Regions from separate parts of the Homo sapiens genome. Here region 2 is linked to region 1. The links come from fine-mapping of genetic effects on gene expression. A gene starts in region 1. The other region holds a variant in brackets. All regions are shown on one strand. Distances are from middle to middle. Region 1 holds the start of CDH4 (cadherin 4). Region 2 has its middle 220 kb from the start of MIR548AG2.

Region 1 (8,326 bases):
CCTACCCGTTCTAACTCCAAAGTGACATACACAGTGCAATTAACAGAGTAGCTCTTGAAAGCTCTTTACTATGTATGCCCTGTTAGATTGCACATCTATTCTGCTCCTAGGCCGACTGCCTAGAGATTTTTTATTTTTTTGATGATTAATGAGTCAGTAGTATCACAGTTTAGATAAAAAAACTAAGTCAGAAAACTTGGATTCGGTGCAAAATAAAAATCCTATCCACATAACCAGGAATCAACAAGGCACGTCAACAAGTTCTGTCTTGAAGGGCGAGGATCTGAAAAATCACTTCACTATAAGCGTGAGCGAGTTCACGCACATGCATGCACACACACACATACACAGGAACCGCTGTCAGTTCTGGAGGGAAAAGTTTACATTCCCTGGGACACAAAACCGGTAGGGCAGTCAACAGTCCTGAATGTGGAAATTTAGCTTCGATACTTTATCAAAAGTCCTCTTCCTCTATCGCTTTGAAATCAATTCAAAGGCTGCCACTTCCAGGAAACTGATGCAGAGAGGAAAGGCTCACAGCCAAGGTGCTCATGGCACAGAACTGATTTATGTCCCCTCCTATGCAAATATAAAGTCTAATTAGTTTGTCTTGAAAGGGAAACAGACCAATAAGCAGGATGATCTACTGTCATCTGAGTTTTGAAGCTGTCTCTGACTTTCCCATCACAAGTGTGGATATAATCCTGCAATTACGATAAAGCTAATTGGTAGTTCCCTCCTGCATGTGTGTTTTCGTGTTGTCAGTGGGGCAGTAATGAAAATGAATGCCACATTTGTGAACAGACCGTCTGTGGGCTTATTTACCGCATTTCCAACAACATCGTCTGCTTTATCATACATTTCAAAGCAGGGATAATTTAAGTATCCAGAACTTCATGCATAAAAATACTTGGTAAGAAGGTCTCTCTCTGCACACTATTTGGGTGATGTTACATCCGAATTACAGTTTGCTGCCCAGGAAATGATTCACTTCACTCAAAAATGACCGGGGTTCTGAATCATTCACCTGTTATGCAAAACGCCTTTCAGGTCAACCAATTTGCACCTCGTGGACTTCACCACCATCATTTCACAGAGAGCACAAAGATGAGGCAAGCCTTGCCTCTCCCATCTACATGTTTCCCCAAGGAAAAGCATGGCAGCAATTCACTCCCACCCCTCCACACCCCGCCTTACCTTGAAGTAGCTTTTCCCCTTCTAGAATATTTTGGGAGATTAATGCCGTGTAATCATCTTCAGAGAACCCAGCCTTGCAGGTCTCTCTAGTTGTAAGATCCTCATTATGGGCCTGAGAACACAAAGGGGAGAGTGTAAAACAATAAGTTCACAGAAATTTAATCCAACCAACATTCATCCAGGGCCTGCTGTGTAAAAGGTCTCTGGCTAAGAGAGAAAGGCTGGCAGGCCACCGTCTCCACCCAGACGCGATACCCCGTCTGCTCCTCTGCTCTCTGGGGACTTTAGGGAGCACTCTCCAGGCTACAGACCAGGAGCATCCTTCCCCAGCCCCACACACAGCAGGCAGGGAGTGAAGGACGGACTGTTGGGGAAGCCAGGCCGGCCAGGGCCTTATTGGCAGAGGAGACGCCTGAGAAATGACCAAAAGGCAGAGACAGAAGACTTCAGCCGCTGCTCCCGAAGCCACTAAGGGCAGGGAGGCCAAAGTGTGGGCGGCTCTGCTCAGACCATTCGCGCTTTAGGCCCACCGCTCTGCGCTCTTGGTAAGGCGGAGGAGGCAGCTTCTTGTCTCCTCTCCAGGTCACCGGGAGGGAGGAGAAAGAGGAGAGAAAGGAAGAAGATTCTCTAGGACTAGGTCCGGAGCCGGTCGAAGAAGGCAGCTCTGCGGGAGGCTGCCGGTGGCTGGGGTGAGGAGGCAGTGGGGGCGCTTCCACCTTCTAGTCTTCAGCCCGCATTTTCACCCTCGGAGCCCCCATCTCCAGCCCAGGCAGGGAGACGGCTCCCCTAACTGACCGGAAAGGGGGTCTCCTCCTGTCCTCCGGAGCTCGCTCGCCTTTCCTGCTCAGTGGGGAAGTCTAGAGCCCATGGCACAGGGCCAGGGAAGGATGGGGTGGACGACAGGGCCCTCCGACCAAGCTTCTGGGAGGGGGCGTGACAGGCAGGAGGAGGTGGTGGAGGGAGAGGCAGTGTGTGCAAGCGGGAAGCCAGCCCCGCTGAAGGAGCAGGAGCACAGCGGTGCTTGGCTCCCCGGCGAGCGCAGGAAGCCTCGGGTGCAGCCCGCACCGGGCAGTGGCGCCTCCCGCCCGCCGCCTCCTCCAGCTCCGCGCGCTGCCGTCGCCCGCCCATGCTTCGACTCCGGAGGCCGCCCCCAGCCCGGAGCTCCAGGCTTCCCGACGCCGGCACCGCGGAGGGCGCCCCTCTACCCCCAGCACCGAGGGAGGAGAGCGGGACGCAGGGTCATTCCTTACGAAAAGCTCTAAACCGCGGCTTTCTTCATCGGCCACGAAGCTCCAAATCGCACCCGCAGCCCGGTGGGAGGCTCAACTCGCCCAGGAAAGTTTCCGCCCGCCCGAAGCGTGTGCCCAGCGCGTCCCCCAGCGCCCCGCGGCCTCGGAGCGGGCCTCCCGCCGCTGGCACTTGTTTATTTCCGAGGTTACAACAGCGCTGCCCGGGAGAAGGCAGCGAGGCCGATCGGCCACGAGAGGGGGTTCCTGCAACTCCCGCCGCCCCTCCGCCTCCGCCCAGGGGCGCCCCCGGAGCCGCCGCGCTCTCTGCCCCCGCGGGCCGCGCACCTCGCCAGGCGCAGAGCAAAGCTGGCAATCCGGCCCGCGGGGCTCTGCAGAGGCAGCGGGAGACCCGCTCGCCCTCCCGGGGCGCCCTCCCGCGCCGCGCCCGCCCGGCGTCCGGCTTCCCGGCCCAAGCCCGGCCCAGCTCCCAGCCCCCGGGGCCCCGCCGGACACGCAGGCTCCAGCCCCGCCGAGGGCTCGGGGGTGAGAGTGCCCCGCAGTCCTACCCCGCCGCCCACCCGCAGCGCGGGTCCTGCCGGCACCCACAGAACTGAGCGGCGCCGCTAGACGGACCCCCAGGCCTTGGGCAGGAGAGGTCGGGCAGGCGCCCCGCACTCGCGGATCCCTGGCCCGCAGCCGCCGGGCGCCCCACGCCTTCAGCCACGGCCGGGGCTGGGCTCGGCAACTCCCGCGGCGCGCGGCTCCCGGGCGATGGAGGGCGCGCCGGCTCCGCCAGTGGAAGCCTGCCCCATGCAGGCAAGCCGAGCTCCGGGTAGCGGCTACGGGCTTTGGGCGTTCGAGGGAGGCTCGGCGGGTCCGGTGCAGGCGGAGCTCCCCGGGTCCTCCACCGAGCCCCACTCCCACCCTGCTCCGCCGCTCCCCGCTGCCCAGGCGGCTTCCCGCTCCTGCCGACCGCAGGCAGCTTCGCCGAGCGCGGGCGCCGGGCTGGATGCAGCGGGGAGCGCGGCGGGGGAGCCCGGGAGAGCCCCGCCGGGTGTGTGAGCGCCCCGCGGGATCCGGGGACGACCTCCCGCTGCCCGGGGCTTCCGAACGGCGGGGGCGGGAGGCGGCAACTTACCCGGAGCGCGCCGGAGAGCGAGAGCAGCAGAAGGAGCACGCCGGCGCCCGCGGTCATCTTCCCCGCCGCCCGCCCGGTGCCCGGCACCGGGAGCCCGCTCCCTGCCGCCGCCGCCGCCGCCGCCGCCGAGACCACCGCCGCCGCTCCGATCGCCGCCGCCGCCGCCGCTCCCCCGCGCCTGCCCGGAGCCTCCAGCCCCGCTGCGCCCGCCGCGCTCGCCGCCCCGGCTCCGGGAGCCAGGCCAAGTCCGGCCGGCGGCGCGTTCCCTCGGGCCGGTGCGTCCGCCGGCCTCGCAGCCGCCCGCGCCTCTGTTCCGCGCGCTCGGAGCTGCAGGTGAAGCCGCGGCCGCCCCGCCGAGGCCCCGCCCCGCCGCCCGGCCCCTGCGCTCGCTCTGCCGACGCGGGCCTTAAAGGCGCAGAGCCCGCGCCCGCGCCCCCCGCGCCGCACCAGCCCAGCCTCTGCCCTCCTGGACGTCTGGAGCCGCCCGGTTGCGGCCGAAGAGGCCAAGGACGCTCGTTTTCCAGGGGAAAAAGGCGCGGGTGTGGAGACTGAAGACAGCGCTGGGGTTTCCGCCCCCACACCCGGGGCACCCTTTCTGGATGGGGCGGTCCCGCCGCGGTCTTAGTCCGACTTCCCGCCCGGGCCCGCGGTGGGAGTGTGCACTTCCATTCTGTCCTTTTATTTTTCAGGTGTCTCCTTGCTAACTCCCCTGACCCGGGCTTGAACCCAGGTCGGGCAGCTCAGGGGTGAGAGTTTCCACCTGGAGCAGATGAGCAGAGGGCCACGCTGAGATTTCAGCCTGTGGGGCTTTGCAGACCCTCCCGCTCCTAGGAAAACTCAAAGCCCTGGCCTGGGCTAGGGATGTACCCTAGGATTGGGGACGGTAGTAATTCCTGTGTGTGCATCAAAACACCCTGTTAGGCCTCAGAAGCCAAGAAAGAAATTAGAAGCTCCAAGAAAGAAAGAAGTGCCCAGACAGGAGCTGTCAGGAGTGTCTGCGCCGACAGGCTGGGCCAGCTCCAGCTCCCTTTGCCCTGCATGGGTGATGGCTGAACTGGGGGGCACTTCTTTAAGGGTTATCAGGTAAAATATATGTACAGGTCGGACAGTGAGTAAATGTTTCTGCACTTTTCCTTTTGGCTTGGAGATTTAAAGAAACGCGGTTTTGTTTGTTCAGATACATCGAATTTTCTTTGTCTGGGGTTTCAGGGACTCTGTGTCCAGAATACATTAGTTCTGGTTTAAGAAATAGGTTGCAAAGGAGAGGGTGGAAGATTGAGTGACACTGTTGAGCTCCAAGATCAGAGTCCACTTGGGCAAGCCAGTAGAGAAAGCTACAGAGCAGCCGCTTCCCTCTCTCCCTCCCAGAACCCCCACCCTTGGGGGCAGGGTGGTCTCCCGGTTAGAGCTCTGCCTTACGCTTAAGGAAACCAGATTTTAGATAACCCCAGAGGACCAGAGTAAGCACTACATCCGAGAGCACAAGGCGAGATTCGGTTTTGCAACTTAACTATGGAACTAGTCAGGAGACACAAAATCTGCCCCAGCCTGGACTCCTATCAGTTATGGCCTTGTCCCACTCCCCACCTAGCCGAAGAAGGAGAGGTTACCAGTTGACATGGCTGGAGGTTTAGACTCACTCGAAGGTCCTGCGTAGCCAGTGAGGTTTCATGAACAGATCCATCCAAAATCCTCATGGACAGAGAATTCCATTCCTCGGCCATGTGCCCGTCCTTTGGGAAGACGCCCCCTCTGCTTTCCTCCTTATTCAAGGTGCTTCACCACTGCTCGAGCGACATCAGAAGCTGTCCAAGACTGCTTTAGACACCAAGACAGCTCTCTTGTCTTGTGTCCCTGGTCTATTTTCTTAAAATATCTGTCGCTGGGGATACACCTTTGTCTGCAGGAGGCCTGAGCATTATGCGAGTTATTTCTTTGGAGAGGCATCACAGACCCCCGCATTTGCTCCAACGTGCTCTGCGAAACTGTTGAAGCGCTGAGGAGCGCGCCAATTTGAAAAAGAAAAGGTATGAGTGTGTGGCAGGGAGACTGGGGTCCAGGAGCAGGTGGGTCCTGAACTCCAAACACTGTGTTAAGCACATCTCCCTCTACTACTGAATGAATCTTGAGTCTACTGCAGCGTGATTTCCAGAAAGGGTAGAGTTTGACAATAGCCTGTCCTTACAAGGTGCTAGCTATGTGCCAGGGACATGTGTAGGAGCTTTATGTAAAGTTGCTCTTGGAGTCCTTCTAACTCCACTATACAGTCAGGCAGAGGAGGGTGCAGAGGGCAGGCACGGGGAAAGCTGCAGTGCCAGCATTCTCACCCAGAGCTGGGACCCTGGCACACGCAGCATGGCCCCAACTTTGTTCAAAGAAACCTTCTTACACAGCTGTAATGTCTTACGGGAACTCGCATTTTCCGAAATACATAGTTTCAGAAACACTGCAGTAACTGACAGGAGTCCAGTAGAGAGCATTGGTTTATCAGACTTACTCTGAATGCAGCAGCAAAGATTGCTGAGACAGAAAAGAAAAATATGACCTAAAATACAAAGCAGTGCCTCCAAAGAATGGTCTTCAGCCTGTCACTCTGAGTGTGGTCCCCAGACCAGCAGCATCAAGATCCCCCAGGAGCTTGTTAAAAATGCAGAAACTCAGGCCTTACCCCAGACCTGCTACATTGATTCTGAATGCTGATGGGATTCCCCGCCACGCCCACCTCTGGTCTGCAATCATCTGCAACAAAATCACAGAGAAACTCATGAAAAATGCCAGTTCCTAGGCTCCACCTGAAATCCATGGACTTGGAGCTTTTGCAAGTGGGGCCTGGAAGCTGACCTTGTAACAATCTCTCCAGTCCATGCTCATGCCACTAGCATTTGAGAATCACGGCCTGTCCCACAGACAGTATGTCCCACGTAACAGAGCAGCAGCTGGAAGCATCAGAAAAATGCTCTCTCCTATGCCCCACCCTGGATTTCCAGAACCTGGACCTCCAGGGGTGGAGCCTGGGCCTCTGCCTGGGGTAGCTGGAGAAACCCTGGCACAGTGTTTGGCACATTGGCCAGTGGGACTGTGGCCTGCCTTTGGTCCACCCAGTGCAGGGAAGACCACAGCTGGCCTGGAGGAGGAGCTAGTCTCTCTGCACTTTGGATAAAGAGCCCTAGAAAAATGTGTGCGTTTGTTTCTAAGAGAGATTAAGAGAATGCATTTGGGAGGTAGTGTATAAGTGACTGTTTGCTCTCAACACCTGTAAACTGTTGACAGTAATTGGACTACAGATGTTTGCTAAGCTTGATAGACTTCTCTGTCTCCCTCTCGATGAGGTGAGTCTGGGAAGGGGTTCCTCTTTAGAAGCAAAAACCAAGTGCTTGTATCAGGGCCACATTTCCCTATATTCGTTGGATGTTAATTTGTTTCCTTCCCTATTGATAGTTATTATTGTAGACACTTCAATGTTCGACAAAAAGGCTGTTTTGTACAGAAAGCAGTGAGATGTTGGCAAAAGGTGTGTTCGTAGAATAAAACATTGTCTTTGTGGGCGATTGAAGATATTCAAGGCACTGTAGAAATGAATGGAATCAGCCTGCTACCCAGCTCAAGAAAACTCCCTGCATGCAATAGAGAAGAGCGATCTTAAAGCAAAAAGCAAAGGAGAGATTGAGAGGGGCGAGCAGGCAGCAGAGAGACCAGTACAGATCGCTCCCTGCCTTCCATTCCAATAACGCTCACCCGCTGAGGTGAAGCTACACTGGGAATAAAGAAAGGAATAGAGTTATTGTTGTAGGTTTTTCAAAATCTATCTTTCTCCATGAACAGGGATCCCTATGTACTGTGTGGCAGGTACTGTGTCGAAGGTTTTCAGTCATGATCCCATGCGATCCTCACATAGGACGGAGGTGGTGATGCCCATGGTCCACAGACAGGACAGACTTGGGTATGTGAGCAGCCTGGCCTGGGTCACCCGCCGGCACGGGGTGGGCTGAGATTCTACTCCAGGCAGCGTGACTTAGGACCTGGGGGCATGGCTGTGAGGTGCATCCCTTGGAAGCAGAAATCCCAGGGGGAAAGATGCAAATGTCCCCTTCCAACCTAGGGCTGTCTTCTTTCCTTTTCCAGTCTCATGCTCAGCCTGGCCCACTCGCCACCAGCAGAATCCTGACCCTCTAGTCCATCCAGAAGCACACGCCCCCATCCAGGCTCTGTGCCTGTGCCTCTGCTGCTCCCTCCGGAGCTCCTTTCTCTCGGAGCACTGTGTTGGCTTTAGCTGCTGCAGGGCTTGGTGGACACCTCTCTCCTCACAGTGTGGTGGAGCTCCTTTCTGTGTGTCCGCCCTCTGGCCACTCCGAGAGCCTTGAGGGTGGGGGAACAGGGTGTTCCCCTCTCCACATGTGGCCCAGGCTCTAACCCTCTAGGAGCCCCCAGGGGGTGGACCCATAAAGCAATGATACCAACGATGACCCCCACTGGCTGCACTGTACCCTGGGGTACTTCCTGCACTCCCCCATTATACAGATGAAGACACTGAGGCATGAAAAGAGGGGAGGAGCTTGACCTGGAACCCAGGGCTGGCTGAGTTCAGACTTACAGCCTTAGTCATGACTGTGCTCCAAAGAAGCACACCATGCACTCTGGGTTCTGAGGAAGAACCAGGTGAGGCTGCTTCTCTCACTCCCCTGGGACTTGGGGGTCTTTGAATCTTTGGAAATTTCCATGGAGCAGGAGATGCAATTCACAAGGGGAAAAAAATTCAAAACAA
Region 2 (8,326 bases), 470 kb after region 1:
AGCAGTACTGTTTCCAGACTCCCAGTAATGCCCTTTCCTACTTCAGTAATGCCCCTTCTGTACTCTCAGTGAGTAACATCCTAACAGCACTGTTTCCAGACTCCCAGTGAGAGGTGAAGCCAGCTGGACTTCCTGGGTTGAGTGGGGACTTGGAGAACTTTTCTGTCTTACAAGGAGATTTTAAAATGCACCAATCAGCACTTTGTAAAAACGCACCAATCAGTGCTCTGTAGCTAGCAAGAGGTTTGTAAAATGGACAAATCAGTGCTCGGTAAAATGGACCGATCAGCAGGATTCTAAAACTAACCAATCATGGGGAGGATTGAGAAAAGGGCATTCTGATAGGACAGAAACAGGACATGGGAGGGGACAAATAAAGGAATAAAAGCTGGCCACCCCAGCCAGCAGCAGCCACCCAGTCCGTCCCCTTCCACGCTGTGGAAGCTTTGTTCTGTCGCTCTTCACAATAAACCTTGCTATCGCTCACTCTCTGGGTCCATCCTGTCTTTAAGAGCTGTAAGTCACTGCGAAGGTCTGCGGCTCCATTCTTGAAGTCAGTGAGACCACGAACCCACCAGATGGAATAAACTCCGGACACACCAGTAATGCCCTTTCCTGCTGTAGTAATGCCCCTTCTGTACTCTGTTGCACCATTCCATATTCTCAGTCTATGAAGCAGATGAAGTTTCCTCCACACCCAGCTCAGAAGGAGGATGCCTGACTCAAGCTCTTACCCACTGGACCACGGTGTCCTCTTGGCCATGGGCTTAGCTGAGTTGGGCCACACGGGCCTCACTGGAGGTTCCAGTTGGAGCCATGGTTTAAGCCACTCTCTCCTGGGGCTTGCTGAGCTCTGGGGATGACATCGTGGAGCTGCTGCCATCTGTCCTGTGACGATATCTGAAAGTGAAGTCATGCTGAGGGAAACGAGGCTGAAAGATGAGGAAAGATGGATTCCGACTGGCATCGTTGGAACACCTGGATGCTGTCGATAGCATCAGCCAATACTTGATGTCTTTCCATAAGCCGGGGTAAGCTGTGTTTTCCGTCACTTGCAACACAAAGAGATCTAATTCAAAGGCGTTCTTATGTAGAATGTGGTCTGCAGTCTGCCCTACCTTCAAGCCAGGCTGAGGGCGGGTTCTTGCGTCATCTCCTTAAAGTGGCTTCTGTAATGTCCCTACTCGGTGAACCCCTTTAGGCTCCTCAGTGCCTCCAGTAGTGGATGAAATTACGCCCCAGGGGATCAGGCCTCCACAGCTGACCAGTGACAACTCCCTGACTTTATTTTCCATCACCCCTTACATCTGGACAGCACCCTAAATGTTCCAGCTACCTTCTGCCTTTCACCATGCTCCTTCCACCCAGCAAGCTCTTGCCACTGATATTCATGCTGCCCAGTTTTGAAGTTCAATTTGAACTTGAACTTCATGCCCTAAGTCACAAAAAGCTTTCCACCATAACTCCTGAGTTGGCCTCCAATGTGGCTCATTTCTTGAGCATCTACTATGTCCCACTGAACTTGGCTCATTTATTATCTGCTTTGTTCCACTGAATGGGAAAATTAAACCCTATGAAGACAGGGACTTCTGTGCTCCCAGTTCCTACTTCAGACCCTGGATCACAGCCAGCACTCAATAAACATTTGTACATCATCATATAGGTTTCCTATAACAACTCTGAGGGACAAAGTTCCTGCTGCATGAATGAAGGGAAACTGAGGCTCAGAATGAATCATGCCGCTCAAGTTCACAGCAACCTAGTCAGGTGTGGGCTGGTCCATTTCAAACTTATGCTCTTGCCATTGTGAAAAACTGTTTCCCGTATTCATTCCCTCATTTGTTCACTCACTAATAATTCACAGAGTTATCTACTATGGGTTTTGTATTGGAGTCATTTGCAATGCAGGTGTAATTCACTCCTTACCCCATACAGTGGGCATCAAAGGGCACCCACTGCACAGAACCAGTGAATGCTACTGCTGAGACACTCAGAAGATGCTCAGACAAGTCCCAGCAAGGGCAGGCCTTGGTCCGTTTTCCTCTGCCTCACTGCAGGTTCTCTGGGAGCCGAGATCATGTCCCATTTGCTTTGTTATTTATTCCAAATTAGCACACAGCGGGATTCCTTATTGATTTAAAAAACTTACTACTGTTACAGTGAATTGCCATTTCTACTCATCTCATCAAAAAACAAATACAGAAAAGAGATCAATTAGCAGAGCGTGGCCGAAGCTGGAACTGTGTGCAAGGCTGTGCTGTGAGAGAAGGCTGAGGAGGTCAGAAAGCTGACTGGAGAATTCAGGCTTCTTCCTGGGTAAAGCACCTCCCAGAGGGTAGGGTTTATACCTCCAGGAGTATATGGGCTTTTCCCTAAGGCATGCAGATGATATTCTGAAGATGAAGTGTTTGAACGTGAAAAACTGACAGCATTATGTTGGATCTGATGGTGTCTATCTTAAAACATTCAGGCTTGTTGTCACTAAAATAGCTCAGATTAATAAGGGGCTTCTTCTTTTCCCAGAGTGACTGGGGATCTCCAGGGCTTTGAAAAGACGAGGTGATGGGTAGACATATCGACATATCACAAAAAGTGGGTTTTTTTTAATGTGGAGGAAAGAAGAACCTGAAAATAAGGGAAAAATGGCAAATGAAGGAGAATCACTTAATTCTGATTCTGGCAACATGATAATTTGTGAACATTCAGACGTGGGTCAGGAGGGAGGTTCCTTTTTCCTTGTTAAAGATTGTTCAGCAGATGAATTGTGAATAAGGGGTGACTGTAGAAAATATATGTTGAGTTCTGTAGAAGAACAAATTGTTTTTAAGGTTACTGTGGTCATCAGATTGCAGAACAAAAAAGACTTCTATTTTTAGTTCTTTCCTTTAGTTGCTATACAAGCTTGACATATTTGCTCAAAAAAAAAAAAAAAAAGAACATACATCTAGAGGCATTTTATAATCTGGAATTTTTGCTAATTAACACTGACGGTCTCCTAATTTGGTGAAGTTTGATTGCGTGAATACTTTCTTTCAAAGAATTCTATAATTTTAGACTTGGAGAAAGCCTGAACAGTTGTCACAAGTATGACAGATGTGAAGATGAGCTATGATTTTTCCAAAAGTTTTAGGGAGGGAAAGGCGGAGAAGGGAGGAAGAAAAAATATGAAGGTCAGGGAGATGTGGGTGTGGATCTCGGGGCCATCACTCACTCGCTCTGTGAGCTTTGTCAAGTTTCCTAAACACTGTGACCAGCTGCATTCCGGAGGAGAGGATACAGAGAGGGGTTTGGCATGGAGCAGGATGACTAT[T/C]AGGGTTGAACTATTCAACCACAAAGATCCAACTGATTTCTTCTGACTTTTCACTAAGGTGCCTGCCACTGAAATAAGATTTATCAGTCTGTCAGTTTTGTTATTTCTGGAAGGCATTTCAAAACATCCTCCAAGGATCTGAATTAATTTTGTAATAATGACATAATATCAAAATATATATAACATATATATATAATATATATAGATCCCTTGGGATCTATACCTAAAGAGGGGGTGGAGGTAAGAAGAGGGAGGTGGGGGAGAAGAGGACAGAGGAGGAGGGAGAGGGGGATGAAGAGGAGGAGGGGGAAGAGGAAGGGGTAGAGGAGGAGGGAAGAGGGTGGTGGAAGGAAAGAAGAAAGGAGTAGGAAGGGGAGAAAGGAGGAGGAGGAGGGGGAAAGGAAGGGGAGGAGGAAGGGAGAGGAGGAAGGGAGAAAAGGAGGGGGAATGAGGAAGGGAGAAAAGAAGAAGGGGAGGAGGAAGGAGGAGGGAGGAGGAGGAGGTGGAAGAGGGAAGAGGAGGAGGAGGTTGAGGAGGGTCTTCGTCATCATACTGCGGTGGCCTGACCAGCAGTCCCAGCTGACCGCACGGGAGCTCTGGAGCTGAAGCAGCCTATTACAGGGCATGGGGCTGAGAAGGCAATGCCTTTATGCCTCTGCATCCATTCCTCTTTAGTTGGGCTGCCCCAGAAGGTGTGTGAGTGAGGAAGCTCTCTGCTTGTGAGGCAGCCCTGGAAGAGGGTGATGACTGAAGGTTGCCTGCTCACAGCACCCAGCAGCTGGTTGGGAAGGTGAGCTGGCAGATCATCCCTGCCCACCCAGCTGCCCTTAACTCCCCGTTTTTAAGTCTGTAGGACTGAAATCAGAGGCCTCTTAGGGCCCCAGGGGAATGAATGAGAGATTCCAGATAAAATGCTTAGCACAATGCCTGGCACGGGAAACGTCAATGAATGTGAATAAAAGCAATAACAATTATTTATTATTATTAATAGTTATAATAACTTGAATATGACTATTTGGGGATGCTTTACAAATATCTCAGTGTACCTAACCTCAGGCATCATTACAGGCCGGCGAATTGACTGCTGTGCCCACTTTATAGATGACAGCCACAGACTCATGGAGGATGAGCGCAGAGCCGTGACCAGGGCGGGGGTTTCAGCCAGGAGTTGGGATCACAAGTCGTTTTTGAAAATTTCACAGTGGTCCTGTCTTGCTGACATTGTTTGAGATGGTTTTTCATCCTTTTTTGAGTGGTCTCCTGACTTTTCCTGGTCTTGCTGGAAGGATGTTTGGTGGATAAGGAGGAGGATGTGACCTCCCCCAGCGTGGCTCTCCACAGAATGCAGCCAAAGTCCCGTCCTTCATCTTGAGGTCGCACTCAATGTTCCTGAGCTCCTCCCCGTGGTGGGGGAACAGCTCCAAGGGCTGAGCATGAGCACAGCTGCTTCTGCGTGTGAACTACACAACTGTTCTGTGATTGCCTAGAATTACGATGTTTCCAGTTCGGTGTAGTAAAAAAATGTGCTTCAGTGGATGCTTTTTATCCTTACAGCACCAGTGTCAGAAGCACATGCATAATTTAAAAACTGTATATTTTCAATTATTGTGAGTTTCCCAAACAAGGGACTTTTTTTTTGTGAATGTTAAATGCAACCAGGTGATCATTAAAATCTTTTTTTGTGTTGACAGTTTCTTCAGCTCTGAAACTGAGTTAAAATTTCTTAGTAGTAATTGAGATCTCTTGGGAAAAGTGTTTCAAAAAAGAAAAAAAAGATGTAAACAGATTTTCCAGCAAAGAAAAAAAATAAAGAACAGAGGGGAAAAGAGAAATAGGCTTCAATTTTACTTGTTTTGGAATCAAAGTCCTAGCCAATATCTCACTGAGATGAAAATTATTCCAAGTTAGAGGAGCAGGGCTAAGAATGTGTGTTTTTGTGAAATGTATTCACATTTTGGCCTTGCTAATACATGTTACTATCTAGCCAAAAATGACAACATAACCAAAAGCACTGGCCAGTGTTATCTAAAATATCAGATATATAGTCTGATATGATCTCATTATTGCAAAATTAATTCAGATCCTCGAAGGATGTTTTGCAATGCCTTTCAGAAATAACAAAACTGATAGCCTGATAAATCTTATTTCAGCGACACCTTAGTGAAAAGTCAGAAGAAATCAGTTTGATCTTTGTAGATGAATAGCTTGATGTTCAAACTCCTTCCAGCCTTTAGATTCCATGTCTGTAAAAATATCACATAACAATTGGCGATGCTGAGACATGTCAGGACTCAAAGTTTCTTGGTTAGAATAATTGATTTCTCGTTAAACTCCTATACATACACTTTTAATTTCTTTCAAACCAAATTTCAACCCCCACACATGATTTTTCCAAAACTCTTCTTGTAATAAAATGTCTAGAAAACTGAGAAAGTTTAATTCATTTTCAACTTAGAAAGCTAAGAGCCACCTTAAATGTTGTAAGTGACATCTCAGGGTAGCCCCACAGCTGCTCCTGACAGTGCTCATAGGGTGGCCAGCATTGGTGCACTCATCACACTGGGGCTGTTTTGTGGATCCAGATGAGGAGGTAGAGGCTCCCCTGTCTTTCTTTTTGAGAGCTGTGTCTCCACGACATCCATTAGCCAGACACATCTGCACAGAATATGGAGGTCATGATAAACATCAGTAGTGTGTCCAGATGGCAGTCCCCATGTCTCTTTTTTCCCCTTTTCATCCAGGTGTTTTGGCAATAAAAATAGCTGCCCAGCTTTTTATGCAACGATTGCTCTCTCCGAATATTCAGTGTACCTTCCTTTGTACCAGTCCAGAAGTCACTGAAGCATTTCACGGCATGACATCTGGAGAGGCTCTGGGGCTGGGCTGCTGGGTTGGATGTCAGGTGTACGTCTTCCTGACTGCGGCATCCGGGACATCGCTTAAAAGTTCAGCGCTTGGACTTCCTCATCTGTGGAGTGCAGTTATTCATGGACTTAGGAACGAGATTAAGTGAATTCATAACACAAATGGCTTTGCACCGTGCCTGTCCACAGTGAGTACTCAGTACACCGGGCTGTTTTATCATTGTTGTTACTGCTGTCGTTAGAGTGTGCAGAACCTGATTGCTGTTTTGATTTATTGCTTTCAAGATTCTACAATTCTCTACAGGCTTGTGGTCAAGCCGTTCAATAAGAAACTTTTCTCACCTCACCTGCTGTCAGGATTTGATACAAATTTCGTGTTGGTGTAGAAGGAGATTATACTAGCAACAAATGCTAATAACGCAGGGGCCTGAATGCTTTTCAATTAAGTAGATGAGTGTCAAGTAGAGTGTTCTGGTTGAAGAAAGAGGCACCAGCAAGAATGACAGGTTTAAAGTTAAGATTCGGACTTCAGTGCAGTTGGCCTTTTGCTTTTATAGCGGAATGGTTTTCTAACATCTTCTAAAGAATCCTCCAAATTGTTCGGTAGGTATTTTCCAGTACAATACTGAGCAGAATTGATACACTAAAAATTTTTCCCATTTTATTTATTCATCCATTCAACAAATACTTATGGACCACCTACTACATATATGGGTGTGAACAAGAACCTCAAGTCTGATGGGAAGGGCCTGTGTCCTGGGCTGCCAGGAAACAGCTGTGAAGGAAGGAGCAGCTGTGACGGCTACTGTTGTGTCCGAGAGGGGTGCAGTGGGTAAGAGACTGGAACAGAGACTGCGCTGGAGTATGGTGGGGGTGTTAGGGGGCCTGCAGTTAGGGAAACATTGGGTTTTGAGGGGAAGCATTGAAGCTGAAATCTAACTGATAAGAGGAGACCAGCATCCAAAGACCCGGGGAAGCGCGTTCCAGGCAGTGAGGCAGCAAGCACAGGGCACAGGTGTGTTTCTATGTTGTATCCGTGTGTGTGTGTGTTGCATCATCTGTGCACGCTATGTGTATTGTGTGTTGTGTTTCTGTGTATTGTTTCTGTGCATGCTCTGTGTGTTTGTATGTTGTGTGTGTATCTGTATGTTTGTATGCTGTGCCTATGTGTATTCTACGTGTTTGCATGTTGTTTCTGTGTGTTCTGTGTGTTTGTGTGTCTGTGTTTGTATTTGTATCTCTGTGTGTTGTTTCTGTGCATGTTCTGTGTGTATATTGTGTCTTTGCACCTTCTACATGTTTGTATGCTGTTTGTGTGTGTGTTCTGTGTGTTTGTGTGTCTGTGTTTGTATTTGGGTCTCTGTGTGTTGTTTCTGTGCATGCTCTGTGTGTTTCTATGTTGTGTCTGTGTATCTGTATGTTTGTATGCTGTGCCTATGTGTTCTACTTGTTTGTATGTTGTGTGTGTGTTCTGTGTGTTTGCGTGTCTGTGTTTGTATTTGGGTCTCTGTGTCTTGTTTCTGAGCATGCTCTGTAGGTTTGTATGTTGTGTCTGTGTATATGTATGTTTGTATGCTATGCCTATGTGTATTCTACATGTTTGTATGTTGTTTCCGTGTGTGTGTTCTGTGTGTTTGTGTGTCTGTGTGTGGGTAAAGAGCAGCTGCTGGGACTGAGCCTGTGTCCAGAGCTGTAGCTGTCTCACAAGGTGGCTGTTGGGCCCCTCCCATGGGTCCAGCTAGGAGCAGACCTGTCTTACTCCAGGGTAAGAGTCAGGTCATCAGAGCTTGCACAGTCCAGGCACACCCAGGATGGCCAGGCAGGAATGGAAAGCAGCTCCACACCTGTGCCACCCACTGGCGTTCCCAACTGTGGAACTGAAGCTAATTGCTCACAGGCACCTGCACACTTCCGCCACACACGTGTGCACGCTCTGACACCAAACTCAAGCTGCCATACCATCACTTCTCTAGAAGTTCAACAAGGGAAGTAAGTTCCAAGAAGAAGAAAGCATGAATACAAGAGCAAGAAGACGAGGCTTAGTTTGGGGTTTCAAAATTGGTTTCAGCTGCAAACTCTGGGTCACAGCTCGTAAAGGTGCTGTCCATGGGAGAGAAGAGCAAGGTGGGTAGGAAAGGCTTTGGCCTCCTGG

Evidence for each region. PIP is the estimated chance that this variant, and not a neighbour inherited with it, causes the effect.
Region 2: its variant is fine-mapped to the expression of CDH4 in esophagus muscle (GTEx, PIP above 0.99).

What each region holds. Positions count from the first base shown.
Region 1 is chr20:61,247,809-61,256,134 of GRCh38, reverse strand. It overlaps CDH4 (cadherin 4), which reads right to left and starts at 3,874. Exons shown (of 16, transcript NM_001794.5): 1 at 3,565-3,874; 2 at 1,198-1,309. The coding sequence starts at 3,621. RefSeq lists an enhancer at 1,078-1,770.
Region 2 is chr20:60,782,402-60,790,727 of GRCh38, reverse strand. No RefSeq gene overlaps it. Among named protein-coding and RNA genes, the nearest start is that of MIR548AG2, 220 kb to the right of the region's middle. The variant T/C (reference allele first, on the strand shown) is at 3,311.